Linked DNA regions of Homo sapiens. The protein of the gene in region 1 interacts with the protein of each later gene in a biochemical or structural test. Each region holds a gene or a part of one and is shown in the gene's direction. Other genes may lie near its edges.

Region 1 (7,401 bases):
TATTCTAACACCAAATACAATTCCAACTTTTGCTTTCTGACTTGAAATGCTACCTTCAGTATTATACTAAATTCCTAGGTAATTTGGATGTATTTTTGATCTGTTTGTGCTTCATTGATTGCAAATCAAGCAAATCAACTGTGACTCCATTCTTTCTTGATTGCAGAACTCTTATTTATTTATTTATTTTTGGAGATAGGGTCTTACTCTGTCACACAGGCTGGAGTGCAGTGGCGTGATGATGCCTCATAGCAGCCTCGACCTCCAGGGCTCAGGTGATCCTCCCACCTCAGTCTCTTGAGTAGCTGAAACTACCACCATGCCCAGCTACTTTTTGGTATTTTTTTGTAGAGATGGGATTTTGCCATTTTGCCCAGGCTGGTCTCAAACTTTTGGTCTCAAACCATCTGCCTGCCTTGGCCTCCCAAAGTGCTGGGATTACAAGTGTGAACCACCTTGGCTGGCTAGAACTCTAATTTTTTTTTCTTTCTTTTTTTTTTTTTTTTTTTTTGAGAAGGAGTCCCTCTCTGTCGCCCAGGCTGGAGTGCAATGGAGTGATCTTGGCTCACTGCAACTTCCGCCTGCCGGGTTCAAGCGAGTCTCCTGCCTCAGCTTCCTGAGTAGCTGGGACTACAGGTGCGCACCGCTACACCCAGCTAATTTCTTTTGTATTTTTAGTAGAGATGGAGTTTCACCATGTTGGCCGGGCTGGTCTTGATCTCCTAACCTCATGATCCACCCACCTCAGCCTCCTAAAATGCTGGGATTACAGGCCTGAGCCACCACACCCAGCCCAGAACTCTAATTTTTAATGACGATTTTCCTCCACTACAAGGAAGTCCTTAGGGAAAGTAACTCACAGATCAGACGGAGAGTAAATCATGATTGGTCTAAGCTACTATTGTTGGTCCTATTCTCTTTGGTATTTATTGGCTTATCCATGGTACTTGAGGGGAAGTCTATTGAGTAACTACTAAGAAAAATTGTAGCTTACTAGACATATAAGGGGATATGTTTAGCTGGCAGTTAGATATTTAAGTATGAAATTCAGAATGCAGATATAATTTTGGGGTTATCACAGCATAGATAATATTTAAAGTAATGTGTTGGGATAAGATTATCAAGGAGTGTACATGCAAAAGACAAAAAGTCGAAATATTGAGCCTTGGGGTACTACAGTATTTAGAGGTCAGAGAAATGAGGAGAAACTAGGAGCAGCCAGTGAGATAGAAGACCCGAGGGGGTGAAATGTCATGGTAGCCAAGGAGGGGGAAGTAATGAGCTGTGTCTAGTGATGTTGGTAGGTCAAGTAACACGAGGACTGAGAATTGACTGGTGTCAGCAAATGGACACCACTAGTGACCTTGACAAGGGCATTTCAGTGGAGTGGAGGAGGTAAAAGCTTAACCAGAGAGGATCTCACCGAAAATGAGAAAAAGGAAGTCAAGGCCAGGCGAGGTGGCTCATGCCTGTAATCTCAGCATTTTGGGAGGCCAAGGCAGGCAGATTGCTTGAGCTCAGGAGTTCAAGACCAGCCTAGGCAACATGATGAAACCTCATCTCCACAAAAAATACAAAAATTAGTTGGACGTGGTGGCACATGCCTGTAGTTCCAGCTACTTGGGAGGCTGAAGTGGGAGGATTGCTTGAACCCAGGAGGCTAAGGTTGCAGTGAGCTGAGATCGCACCACTGCACTCCAGCCTAAGCAACAGAGTGAGACCATGTACAAGCCACCTTTGTGAGACATTTTGCAGAAAAGAGAATGGAGAAATGGGGCAGTAGGTGGGGGGTCAAGTCCAGTCAAGAGAGGGTTTTTTTTTTTTTTTTGAGGTGGAGTCTCGCTCTGTTGCCCAGGCTAGAGTGCAGTGGCGTGATCTTGGCTCACTGCAACCTAAGGAGGGTTTTTTTGTTTGATTGTTTTAAGATGGAAGAAATAAAATCATGTTGCTATAGCAATGAGAGGTAATAGCAGAAAAATAGCGATGTAGGTGAGAGGAAGAATTGCTGGATAGGTGTCTTTGAGAAAGTGACGTGGTATGAGACCTAGTACTTGAGCTCCTCAAAGTGTCATCAATGGACTAGTGACCATCTAGAAATGGTTTTTCACCAGTTTGTGACAGCAATTCAGAATTAATATTTTGAAACTTTTATAACAATTTGACAGAAAAATGTTACGCGTGTTGGGTTTAATAATAAAAATTCTGCCTAGAGTAGTCAAATTCATAGAGATAGAAAGCAGAACAGTGATGGCGAGGGATTGGGGGAAGTTAGGAATGGGGAGTTATTGTTTAATGAGTACAAGCTTTCAGCTTTGCAAGATAAAAAAGTTCTGGAGGCCTGGCACATTGGCTCACGTCTGTAATCCTAGCACTTTAGAAGTCTGTGGCAGGAGGATTACTTGAGCCTAGGAGTTTGAGACAAACCTGGGCAACACAGTGAGACCTTGTCTCTACAAAAAAAAAAAAAAAAAAAGGTAGCCAGGCGTGGTGGTATGTGCCTGTAGTTCTAGCTGCTTAGGAGGCTGAGGTGGGAGGATCGCTTCAGCCCAGGAGTTTGAGGCTGAGTGAGCCGTGATTGTGCCACTGTACTCCTGATGGGTGACAGGGTAAGAACTTGTCTCAATAAATAAATAAATAAATAAATAAAAGAAAAAATAAAAAGTTCTGGAGCTTCTTGATGGGGATGGTTGCACAACAATGTGAATGTATTTAATACCATTGAACTGTACACTTTAAAATGGTTAAGCAGGTTTAAAAAATCTGGGCTTGCATTTTGGATGCTTGTTTTTAAATTTTAATTTTTTCTAGTAATTAATTTTGATTGTATTTTACAGAAATTTAGTTTTGTGATTGGGGATAAAATCTGGGTCTTTTAGCACAGATGCTTGAGAACTGAGGAGGATTTGATGTTAGCTAAAAGACAAATAATTAACTTGTAGTAAGGAAAGGAAGGCAGAGAGAGCATCAAAGCAGAGTTACAGGTTCGTTGGAAGTCATGGTGGGTGCTGGGAACTTGTAGATGTTCTTTTTGGTTTGTTTGATTTTCTTGTGAATTAGAAGCAAAATCATCAGCTAAATGAGATGAGGGAGGAAGTGTCGGAGGTTTGAAGAGACAGGAGACTTGAAATAGTTATGTAGCAAGGTGGGAGAGTGTGTGAAACTGGAGAAATGTGGTAGGGTAGCCACTCATTATGGCCTCTTGAGAATAATGATCTCAAATTTACGGGGAGTCAGTCAACCACTTTTGGCTTTTTCTCCACCCACTCCATTGCTGGAGTTCTGTCAGTACAAAGAAAGCAGAGAACGACTAGAGAAATGAAGGTAATACTGAAGAAATCGACTTCATGTACCTCATGTACTCACTTTCTTCCCCAAACAGCTTAGATTCTATTAGATTCCATTTCATGACGGACGATAGAATCTAAGCTGTTTCAGGAAGAAAGTGAGTACATAAGGCCAGCGTGGGGAGGAATAGCGAAAAGGTAGTTGGATCAATGGATTTGGGGTCTTGGAGTTGAAGTTTTTGGAGTTGGAGTATTATCAGACAGAGTGAGCTAGAAAGGAAGAAGGTTGTGGCCGGGCGCAGCGGCTCACGCCTGTAATCCCAGCACTTTGGAAGGCCAAGGCAAGCGGATCACCTGAGGTCAGGAGTTCGAGACCAGCCTGGCCAACATGGTGAAGCCACTTCTCTACTAAAAATACAAAAATTAGCCGGGTGTGGTGCCGGGTGTTTGTAATCCCAGCTACTCGGGAGGCTAAGGCAGGAGAATCACTTGAACCCGGGAGGTGGAGGTTGCAGTGAGCCAAGATCGCACCACTGCACTCCAGCCTGGGCAACAAGAGCGAAACTCCATCTCAAAAAAAAAAAAAAAAAAGAAAGAAAGAAAGAAAGAAAGAAAGGAAGAAGGTTGCAATGGGAGTTAGAGGATTAAAATTGAGATTGTAGAGAAGTTACAATTATTCGTATGAGCATGAGAGTGAGAGGCTGAGCCAAGAATGATCCCTAGAGAAGAATCTGAGAGGCCAGAGGATTGGAAGAATTAAGCGAATTTTGAAATAACCAAGAGTTATGACAATAGTAGTAATGAATGACAGTGAACCAGAAGCCCAAATCTTAGAGAATGATGGTGAATGACAGAGGAGTCTATAGGTGACCGAAGTGAGCGATGCTCTAATCTCTCGTCATGATGTAATATTTAAAGCTTTTCATATTTTGAAGGGATGCTAGGATTTGGGGGTGTGTGGCTCCTTTAAGGGCCTGGGAGGGGGAGAAGCTGGAGGTCGGGCTGGGGGGGGCGGGACCCCCTCGTCTGAGTCTGCGCATTGAGAGCGGAGGCGGGTCCAGGCGCGGGCTCGCGCGCCCGGGCGGGTCCTCGCGGGGGCGGAGTCTGCGCTCTGGTTCGGGCTGCGGCTGCGGCTGCGGCTGCGGCTGCTACTGCTACGCTCCTAGCTTGAGGGAAAGAGGCCGAGGCCTGGGCCAAGCCCGGAGCCGCCGCTCGCCGGAGCCTCCTGGAGCCTCCGCGCCGGCTCAGCCTGGGGGCGGGCTCCGGTCCGGCCCGCCGCCGCACCCAGGACGGAGGCTGCATGCCCGAGGACCAGGCCGGCGCAGCCATGGTGAGGGAGCAAGGCCTGCCCTAGCCGCAGCCGCCCGCCACCCTAGCCCCCGCCCGTCGCGCTGGCCCCTGCGGTCTTGCCCCTCCCTGTCTCTGGTGTCCCCTCGGGCTCCCTGCCTTTACCTCTCTCCCTCGTTACCGCCCCCTCGGTGTTCAGCTCCTCCTTCCCCATTCACCTGCTTCGGTGAACCCCTTTAGGTGACACCCCCTGAATCTCCCTTCTCCCCGATGACATCCTTTTTATCACCCCCAGTGACAGCCTTTTTCGCATTCCCTTTGTCGCCCACTCCTTGTCCTTTAACCCTAACCCTTCCTTTCTTTCTCCTCTATCATTTTGCCTTTTTTCCTCTTATGTGATTTTTACTTTCCCCCCTTTCCTCCCTAGTTTTCGCTGCTCTTCCTTGCTCTTCTCACCCCTCTTCACCATTTTATCTCCACTGCCCCCTTCTCTCCGTGTTCCTTCTCCCCTTCGTCCTCTTCCATCCACGTTTCCTCTTCCCTTATCGGATGTCCTCGCTCGGTTCGCCGTCGCAGCTGTCCCCATTTCCTTCTACGGGCTTCAGGGGTCTAAGCAGGAACAATTTGAGGACTGTTGCTTCCCGGGAGCTGTAGGGCGGGCAGATAGGGATTTATAGGTTTGCTTCTTCCTTTTCGTTTTTGGAGGCATTGAAGAGATCCTGGAAGCCTATTCACCTAGTGTCATTGCAAAATCGAAGTGGTGGTGTGTTACAGAGCAGTGAAGTGAGGGCCAGCATGCATACTGTGACCTCAGGAGAGATCTAGTCTTTTGACAGAAATAGCTAAAAAATGTTTTGAATTTTTTTTATTTTGAGCATCTTTTAATGTGGAGGTGCAGTTGGAGAAGTTTAAAAATACTTATTTACAAGCTTGGCTATTATTACTAAAAACAAATGATTTGTTTTCATTTGGAGGCAGAGACCAAGGGCATTTGAGGACTGACAATCAGGTTGGCAGGTTGTGACAGTCTCTTTAAACCTTCTAAAGAGTTCATTTGTTTTGCCCTGTCTGCCTTTAGTTGGGAGAACCTTATATTTGCAAATTTTCTTTCTGTCTGAAAATAGGTTGAGGCTTCAGTTGGTTTTTTCATTGAGTTGGGTTATAAGTGGTTTGCTGTACATTTATTGAAAACATTGCTCCATCATATGCAACAAGCTAAATTTTGGTCTCTGGGAGGAATAAGGCAAAACTAAGTCCTGATAATTATGTTCCCCTAGGAGGTTAGTCAGTTTCTTTTTTTCCCTCCAGCAGTTTTTTAGAAAAGTAATATACTATAAAATTATTTAATCTATGAATTTTCCCTAACTCACTCCTGCATTTTTAGTCTGTCATTTTCCTGTGTTTGTCTCCTTCACTTTCACACACTGTTGTTGTATGCTAACCTGTTTCTCCCTGTGGAATGTAAGTTCTAGGTAGCAACCGTTCCTTACTTATTATTCCAAGTGCCCAGGCCAGCTAGGTGCTTGAATGATTCACTTTATGGTCTCATTTCCCACCTGACTAATATAAACTTAAACTGAAATTTGAGGTAACTAGTGGACTACACAGAAAGAGTGAGTTTGAGAATTGTTGTTTGGAGACGATCTTGCTCTGTGGCCCAGGCTGGAATGCAGTGGCACAATCATGGCTCTTTGCAACCTTGAACTCCTGAGGTCAAGTGATCTTCCCACCTCAGCCTCACAAGTAGCTGGTACCACAGGCACGGACTACCGTGCCCCGCTAATTTGTAAAACTTTTTGTAGAAATGGAGTCTTGCTGTGTTGCCCAGTCTGGTCTTGACCTCCTGGATTCAAGCCATCCTCCCACCTTGGCCTCCCAAAGTGCTAGAATTACAGGCATGAGCCATCACGCCTGGGCAGAGAATCTTAATTTTGATGCAAAAATGATATTGAGTGAGGTATGATGATATACTTTTCAGAATAAAGAGCTATCCTACCTAAGACATTACACTGCTAGATTTTTGAAAGTGTGGGCCCTTCCATTGAGAATGAATGTATGAGAGGGAGGAGTTATGAACTCCCCTTTGAGGTATTTAGGATCTAAAAGTGTCCTTTGAGCTGGGCCTGAAAGTTGAATAGGATTTATATAGATCATTTTGGGAAGGGGAAGAATGCCTCATTGTGAATGTGAGTAGCAAGTAGAAAGGATCCCCTCACAGGGATTTTTTTTTTTTTAAGAAAGAAAGTAGGAAGGAATTAGGATGCATTGTAGGAAGTAGTATTACCCTTATATAGCATGGAAGGATGCAAGAATGGAGATGTGTAGTAGGAAATGAGGCTAGCAAGATACTGTCTTAGCCCATTCAATCTACTGTAACAAAATACCATAAACTAGGTAGCTTGTCAGCAACAGAAATTTATTTCTCAGAGTTTGGAAGGCTGGGAAGTCCAAAATCAGTTCCCCAGTGGATTCAGTGTCTCGTGAGGGCTCTTCCTAAGTCACCTTTTCACTGTTTTCACACATGGTGGCAGGGGCCAGGCAGCTCTCTGGAGTCTCTTTTATAAGGGCACTAATCCCATTCATGTGGGCACTAACTGGTGATCTAATCACCTCCCAAAGGCCCCACCTCCTCATACCATTACCTTGGGGGTTAGGATTCCAACATATGAATTTAGGGAGACAGAATTCAGACCACAGCAGACATATTAGGCATGATTATGTTTTAAACTTTGCATCTAATTAACTTGATTTTTCCTTGCTTGTTAAAACATATACACACAGAGTAACAGTGTATGTATGGGAGAGGTGAGGAGAAGGCAGAATATTAGCT
Region 2 (7,403 bases), on another chromosome or scaffold:
CCTGAGGCTGTGTCATGGGTGCATTTTAACCTTGGCAAAATAGATTTCTAAATTCATTGAGACCTAGTAGATACTTTTGGATCACAAGCTCATGAACACAGAAAAGATCAAGATAGAATAAGGAAAAAATGAGTATAATGGAAAGCACAAATCAGTTCCAAAATCTCAACTCCTTCATATTTATTCACCATAGGGAAATGCTTTACAACTTTGTGGGATTAGAGTCCATTTGTGAAAGATTTTATATATATATATATAGTTTGTTTTGTTTTGTTTTTTGAGACGGAGTTTCAATCTTGTTGCCCAGGCTGGAGTGCAATGGTGCGATCTCGGATCACTGAAACCTCTGCCTCCCAGGTACTACGGATTCTCCTGTCTCAGCACCCCAAGTAGCTCAGATTACAGGCATGCATCACCATGCCCGGCTAATTCTTTTGTATTTAGTAGAGACTGGGTTTCATTATGTTAGTCAGGCTGGTCTTGAATTCCTGACCTCAGGTGATCCACCTGCCTCAGCCTCCCAAAGTGCTGAGATTACAGGTATGCGCCACTATGCTGGGCCAAAAGATATATTTCTAGTATTAGATTGAAATAAAAACCCATTCTATATAACTTTAGCTAATTTAAAACGCAAATAATAGATAATTACATAGATACACAAAACTTTATAATATTTCACTTAGTATTGCTATTACTATGTTCTTGGGGCAGAAGCTCAGTCTGTCAGATACATTACAAAAGGATGGTGTCTCCATAATTGTGCTTAGGACTCTGGTGCATAAGTGGATAAACTGTTAAACAGGATCCTAGGGGAGCTAGGGTGACAAAGTTCAAGTCCATTAAAACTAGCAACATACATTCCTTACTGCTCACGCATGACTCATGGTCTTAAGATGTTTACAGTTAAGAAAAGCAGCTTAATCATACCTGCAAGGACAAACTCCTACATAAACACAATGTCCAGATGACCCAATATCCCATGACAATGTATGCTTCTAAGCTAATTACAGTCATGCTTTCACGTACTTGCACACTAAAATACCAAGGATAGGTGTTTTTTTTTTTTTGATGGAGCTTCACTTTTGTCATCCAGGCTGGAGTGCAATAGGACAATCTCGGCTCATTGCAACTTCCACCTTCCGGGTTCAAGCGATTCTCCTGCCTCAGCCTCCTGAGTAGCTAGGATTACAGGCATGCACCACCACCCCCGGCTAATCGTTGAATTTTCAGTAGAGACGGGGTTTCATCACGTTCGCAAGGCTGGTCTCGAACCCCTGATCTCAGGTGATGCCCCCACGTCGGCCTTCCAAAGTGCCAGAATTACAGGCGGGAGCCAATGCAACCGGCCAAGGATAGCTTTAAATCAACAAAGTAATAAGTTTTGTTACACTGTCAGCCCACTGGCAGGTAGACATACCTTAGTTTTTACCTAAGCACCTATGTAAGAGAAACTTTAAGAGAAGGCAGTTCCCTTTGTTTTTGAGGTCGCCCTACTGTGTAACTGGTAGTTTTCTTTTTTTTTTCTTTTTTTTTTTAAGACGGAGTCTCGCTCAGGCTTGAGACACCTTGTCCAGCTGTATTTTTTATTATTATTATTATTATTATTATTATTATTATTATTATTATTATTTTGTTTTTGAGACTGAGTTTCACTCTAGTTCCCTGGGCTGGAGTACAATGTCATGATCATGGCTCACCACAGCTTCCATTTTCTGGGCTCAAGCGATTCTCCTGCCTCAGCCTCCGGAGTAGCTGGGACTACAGGCTCATGCCACCACTCCAGGCTAATTTTTATATTTGTAGTAGAGACGGGGTTTCTCTATATTGGTCAGGCTGGTCTCGAACTCCCGACCTCAGGCCATCCGCCGTCCTCAGCCTACCAAAGGGCTGGGATTACAGGCTTGAGCCACCGCGCCCGGCCTGAAGTAGAATATTTTAGAAAGTAATTAAACCTTTTTTCAGCATAATAACCCAGAGATGTACTTCTGAAGGACTTAGAATCTCTTCTTGAAAGGCAAGCAACAAGGGAGATAGTACCTGTAAGTCAGTAGGAAATTAAATATTTCAAACATCAGCTATTTCAAATTTAAAGCTACAGACTTTTAAATAATTCGGAACCTTGAGAGGAACGTGGTCATGCAACCTGAGTCCGGTGGCATGCAGGCGCAACTTCTACAAGTTTTCCTGGCCAGGCATGCAGGCTCAGGCCTGTAATCCCAGCACTCTGGGAGGCTGAGGCGGGCGGATCGCCTGACGTCAGGAATTAGAAACCAGCCTGGCCAACATGGGGAAACCCCGTCTCTACTGAAAATACAAAGCCATTAGCCGGGCATGGTGGCGCACGCCTGTATTTTCAGCTATTTGGGAGGCTGAGGCAGGAGAACTGCTTGAACCCAGGACGTGGAGGTCGTAGTGAGCCGAGATCACATCACTGCATTCCAGCCTGGGCGACAGAGCAGGACGCCTTCCCAAAACAAAACAAAACAAAACAAAATGTGCTATACAATTTAGTTTCCTAATATCAATTTTAAAAAGTTTTCGTGTAAATAATTAGGAAAACTAAGCAGCCCCAGAGATAAGACCTCCTGGCATCATTGTCCCTTCTTATGGAGTGATAATGTAACCTTCCTTGAAGTGTATCACTCCATCACCAGTCAAGCTGCCGCAGCCTATGCACTGGACTTGAATGGAAAATGTGGTGGTTCTGGGAAAGCTTCTCTGTATTTCCTTGTGTGTGTGAAATGTTAATGTCTCTACTTGGGAACGCTGACCCCATTCATTTGGAGTTGAGGTTTCCAGGTGGCTATTCTCATGCTTTGTGTCCAAATAAACTCTATAATTAATAATGTATTCTAAATTTCATTATTTACTGCTGACATCAGTTTCTGTTGGATTGTAGGAGCCTCACCAGAGAGGGCACCTGTCCGCCATGCTGTAAAACTCACACTTGCCAAAAATACATGGGTTAGGGTTTCTCCCCCTCCCTCAGGATGATGCTAGTTAGCTGACACAGATGGTCACCTCCATTACCAAGTAGAGCCAGGATGAATTATGTGTGACCAAGGGTGTTGTCAAGTCCTCTTCCCTGAGGACTGATCAGTGTTTATCTTGAAAACATGTATTTGGGTTGTATAGAACAGTGAAGTTTCTTTCTCTCTTTTCAACCTCTCAACTGTCCTCTATTTCCCATCACATGCTGGTCTAAGGCCTATTTATTAATAAAATAGTTTTTATTTCTTTCTCTGTTATCGTCGTGAAGATGATTTCTCATTTAGGGGAAGATTTTTTTAGTTTTCAATTGTATTTTCTCAACATTTAAGAGCGAAGTGAAGAGTATTTCTTGGGCCAGGCACAGTGGTTCACGCCTGTAATCCCAGCATTTCAGGAGGCCGAGGCAGGCGGATCACTTGAAGTCAGGAGTTCGAGACCAGCCTGGCCAACATGGTGAAACCCCGTCTCTACCCAAAATACAAAAATTAGCCGGGCATGGTGGCCTGTGCCTGTAATGCCAGCTATTCCGGAGGCTGAGGCAGGAGAATCGCTTCAACCCAGGAGGCAGAGGCTGCAGTGAGCCGAGATGTCACCACTGCACTCCAGCCTGAGCGACAGAGAAATACTCCGTCTTAAAAAAAAAAAGAAAAGAAAAAAAAGAAAGTAATAGATCTCTTCCACAAATGTGCTGGGACAATTAACTGGATATCCACATGGAAAAGAATAATGTTGTATCCCTATCTCACACAATCAAAATTTTATTTTAAAAATTAAAAGAGACGATGAGGGGAGCCCTGCGGGAGGGTGTGTTACTTTGTCGCCCAGGCTGGCCTGGACCCCCAGGCTCAGTGATCCTCCCGCCTCTGGCCCTCAGGCTCCCGCCCACCTGGCCGCATTCCTGCTATGTTTAAGCAGTAGGTGGTGACTTCACTCCTCCCTGGCCTGAACACTCCGTCGCGCATCCCAGGCGGAGGCCCTAGGGAAGTCTCTGAAGCTGAGCACAGGGTGGACTCTCCCTCCTGAGTGAATGGAGAATAGAAAGGGAGAGGATTTCTGTTCTGTTCTGTGGGCCGTCAGCATGAAATTGTACGTTCCGCCCAGGCAGGGCTTTGCATTTTACATTCTTGTTTGCATCCCCGTTCCAGACAATTCCAGGGCTTTCGAATCGTGCTTCAGCCTTCCTGACCGCTCTCGCCTCCAAAGCCCGAAAAATAGAGTCGCTGGGAGCGAGGCTGAGAGACGCACAGGTCCCGCCCCGGCCCCGCCCTCTGCCGGTTCTAAAGGGCAAGGTCTCTCCGCCTGGGGCCCCGCCTCTACCTCGATCAGGCCCCGCCCACCTTCTCGTTGGCTCCACCCAGGCCTGGCTTTAGTCCTGTGCGCACACATCCGCGCAGACCAGGAAGCGGATCCCGTGGAGTGAAGGTCGCACCGCGGCGGTGAGTTTTGCTCTGTGTTGTATTAAGTCTGCACTCCCCATATCCCCGGCACTTCCGTACCTGGGACGTGGGGTCACCACAGACCTGTAAATTCTCGCCCATCTTCCTTCAACCAGAGCAAATGCAGACGTTCCCCTGGGAATCCGGAAGTCGCTTCCTTTTGTGTTTAAAGTCGCCCTGAGGCTGTTCCCGTCTCCAGTCTTTCTGCTACAGGGCGCTGTATACACTTCCTATCGCGTAGTTTCTGTGCTCAAAACCGTTTTTTAACTCCTCCCTCCCCGCGCTTTTCAAAGTCCTCACCCGAGATGTGTATTTCCGCCTGGGCGCCTCCCAGTCTCAACCTTTAGGCGCCTGAAGCGCAAACGTCGCGATCCCAGTCTCAGGGAGGCCGAGTTCTCTGCCTGGTGCTGGGATCTTGTGGACCCCACCGAAGGCGTCGTCGCACCCCACCTCCCGCCTCATGCTGGGCCTTGCTGCACCCCAAGTCTCCCCTTAGCAGTCACCACTTTCCTTGAGCCAGCGTTGGGGAGGTGCCAGGGGCCAGTCCTGTGACACGGTGTGTTCTTGCCTGCCTAGCTCCAACCCCTGAAAAATGAGCCTCTCTGGGATGCAGGCGTCTTACTTCAAACCCTCCTGTGATTGTGTGGGCTAAAGAGATCAGGAGACAGAGAGTAGTAGAAAACCTGAGACAGAGAAAAGAAGAATGAGAAAGACCCATAACAGATGGCAAAGTAGAGGATGGGTGAGGGATTTGCCAAGAGACAGCAAAAGTGAAAAAAAAAAGATAAGAAAGCAGGAGGAGAAAAGCAACTGGAGAAATGTAGAGAAAAGCTAGATGTACAGAGAGATGAAGGACAGACAGCAAGGTAGAGAGGGGCAGCAAAGAGGGAGGCTCATCAGAGTGAGAGAGAGAGAGAGAGAGAGGAGGAATTTGGAGCCAGGGCAGACAGAGCAGAGTGGTGCTGGTGGCAAGGAGAACAGAGGGAGAACCACAGCAGGGAGGACGCCTGGGGATCTGGGGTGCTAGAGAGTGGGGACGGGGGGTAAAACAGAGAAGAGAGAATTTAACAGGGAGAGCGGCAGAGATGCAGAGATGGGATAAGAGGCGGAAATATATGGAGATTGAGGACGATCGAAGAATTGGGGAGAAGGAGCAACAAGAGATTAAATAAGACGTGAGGATGGAGCCCAGGTAATTTTTGTATTTTTAGTAGAGACGGGGTTTCACCATGTTGGCCAGGCTGGTCTCGAACTCCTGACCTCAGGTGATCCACCCGCCTCGACCTCCCAAAGTGTTGGAATTACAGGCGTGAGCCACCGCACCTGGCCACCCAAGCATTCTTGATTGAAAAAGTTTGCTTATGTCTTAGTTCTACAGCTGACCCTCTTTCCCTGCTTTTTGTTTGTTTGTTTGCTTGTTTGTTTTGAGATGCACTTTCGCTCTTGTTGCCCAGGCTGGAGTGCAATGGTGTGATCTTGGGTCACCGCAACCCTTTTTGGTTTTTTTTTTGAGACGGAGTTTCGCTCTTGTTGCCCGTGCTGGAGTGCAATGGTGCGATCTCGGCTCACTGCAACCTCCACCTCCCGAGTTCAAGCGAGTCTCCTGCCTCAGCCTCCCTAGTAGCTGGGATTACAGGCATGTGCCACCACACCAGGCTAATTTTGTATTTTTAGTAGAGATGGGGTTTCTCCATATTGGTCAGGTTGGTCTTGAACTCCTGACCTCAGGTGATCTGCCCACCTCGGCTTCCCAAAGTGCTGGGATTATAGGCATGAGCCACCGAGCCCGGCCTACTCACCACCACCTTTACCTCCCGGTTTTAAGCGATTGTCCTGCCTCGGCCTTCCTGAGTAGCTGGAATTACAGGCAAGTGCCACAACATCTAGATAATTTTTGTATTTTTAGTAGAGATGGGGTTTCTCCATGTTGGTCAGGATGGTCTCGAACTCCCGACATCAGGTGATCCGCCTGCCTCGGCCTCCCAAAGTGCTGGGATTACAGGTGTGAGCCACCGCACTCAGCCTCCCTGTTTTGAAGGTAACTAGCTGTGTCTTTGTACATCTGCATTTTATAAATGTTACTGTAATTTTCTTGTGAGGAAGAATTAAATGTTGGGAATCAGTGGCATCAGAACTTGCAAAGGAAGTTTCTTTATCCCAGGTATGTGAAAGAGGCTTCTCTAATTTTCAAGGATAGTTTTGATAAGGCCAACCCTTTCCTTTATCCCTTCCAGGCCACCATGTAAGAATTCCGTTACATCTTTTCACTCATCTCAGACCTTCTCAGCGTGACTCGGTGAAAATGTCCCCGTTCTGAGGATGTCACAGCTAAATCTAAAGCAGATCATGTCAGTCCCTGGCAGGGAACCCTCCATGGGCTTCCTGTGTTCCCCAGGACAAAAGCCCAACTCCTCACTGTCACTCCACAGCCCTGTGTCCAGGGCCCCTGCCACTGTCCAGGCTCCTCCTGGGAACTTGCCCTCATCTCATGACTCCCTCTGCCCCAGTCACATTTGCTTTTCTCTTTTCCCAAACATCAAAACCCTTCCCGTCTCAGGTCATTTTCACTGCTCTTACCCTATTTCTCTAAATGCTCACAGCACTGTCCCTTTCTCCTTCAGGTCCTGGCTCAGAAATGTCTCCCATGCCCTCCCACCCCCAACTGAATTTCCCTCTGCCCATCAGTCTCTATCACATTACTCAGGTTTTATTATCTCTGTGTCAGTCACATCAGAAACACACTTTTTTTCTTTTTCCAAAGAGTCTCGCTCTGTCCTCCAGGCTGTGAGTGCAGTCTTGTGATCTTGGCTCACTGCAACCTTTGTCTCCTGAGTTCAAGCAATTCTTGTGCCTTAGTCTCCCAAGTAGCTGAGATTACAGGTGTGTGCCACCATACTCTGCTAATTTTTGTATTTGTATTTTATTTTATTTTTGAGTCTTACTCTGTTGCCCTGGCTGGAGTCCAGTGGTGCGATC

The links. Proteins that work in one complex are often made in the same cells at the same time.
Region 2: the proteins of ZYG11B (region 1) and ZNF701 interact in a test that uses a peptide from one of them, tested with the Homo sapiens proteins (2 studies listed by BioGRID, with this or other methods).

What each region holds. Positions count from the first base shown.
Region 1 is NC_000001.11:52,722,070-52,729,470, forward strand, and holds the start of ZYG11B (protein zyg-11 homolog B), read left to right. Parts: upstream 1-4,383; 5' UTR 4,384-4,584; coding exon 4,585-4,614; intron 4,615-7,401. UniProt on the Homo sapiens protein: Serves as substrate adapter subunit in the E3 ubiquitin ligase complex ZYG11B-CUL2-Elongin BC. Acts to target substrates bearing N-terminal degrons for proteasomal degradation with the first four residues of substrates being the key recognition elements.
Region 2 is NC_000019.10:52,565,904-52,573,306, forward strand, and holds the start of ZNF701 (zinc finger protein 701), read left to right. Parts: upstream 1-4,383; 5' UTR 4,384-4,427; intron 4,428-4,760; exon of another isoform or gene 4,761-4,983; intron 4,984-6,333; exon of another isoform or gene 6,334-6,338; coding exon of another isoform or gene 6,339-6,465; intron 6,466-6,661; exon of another isoform or gene 6,662-6,775; intron 6,776-6,789; exon of another isoform or gene 6,790-7,307; intron 7,308-7,403. UniProt on the Homo sapiens protein: May be involved in transcriptional regulation.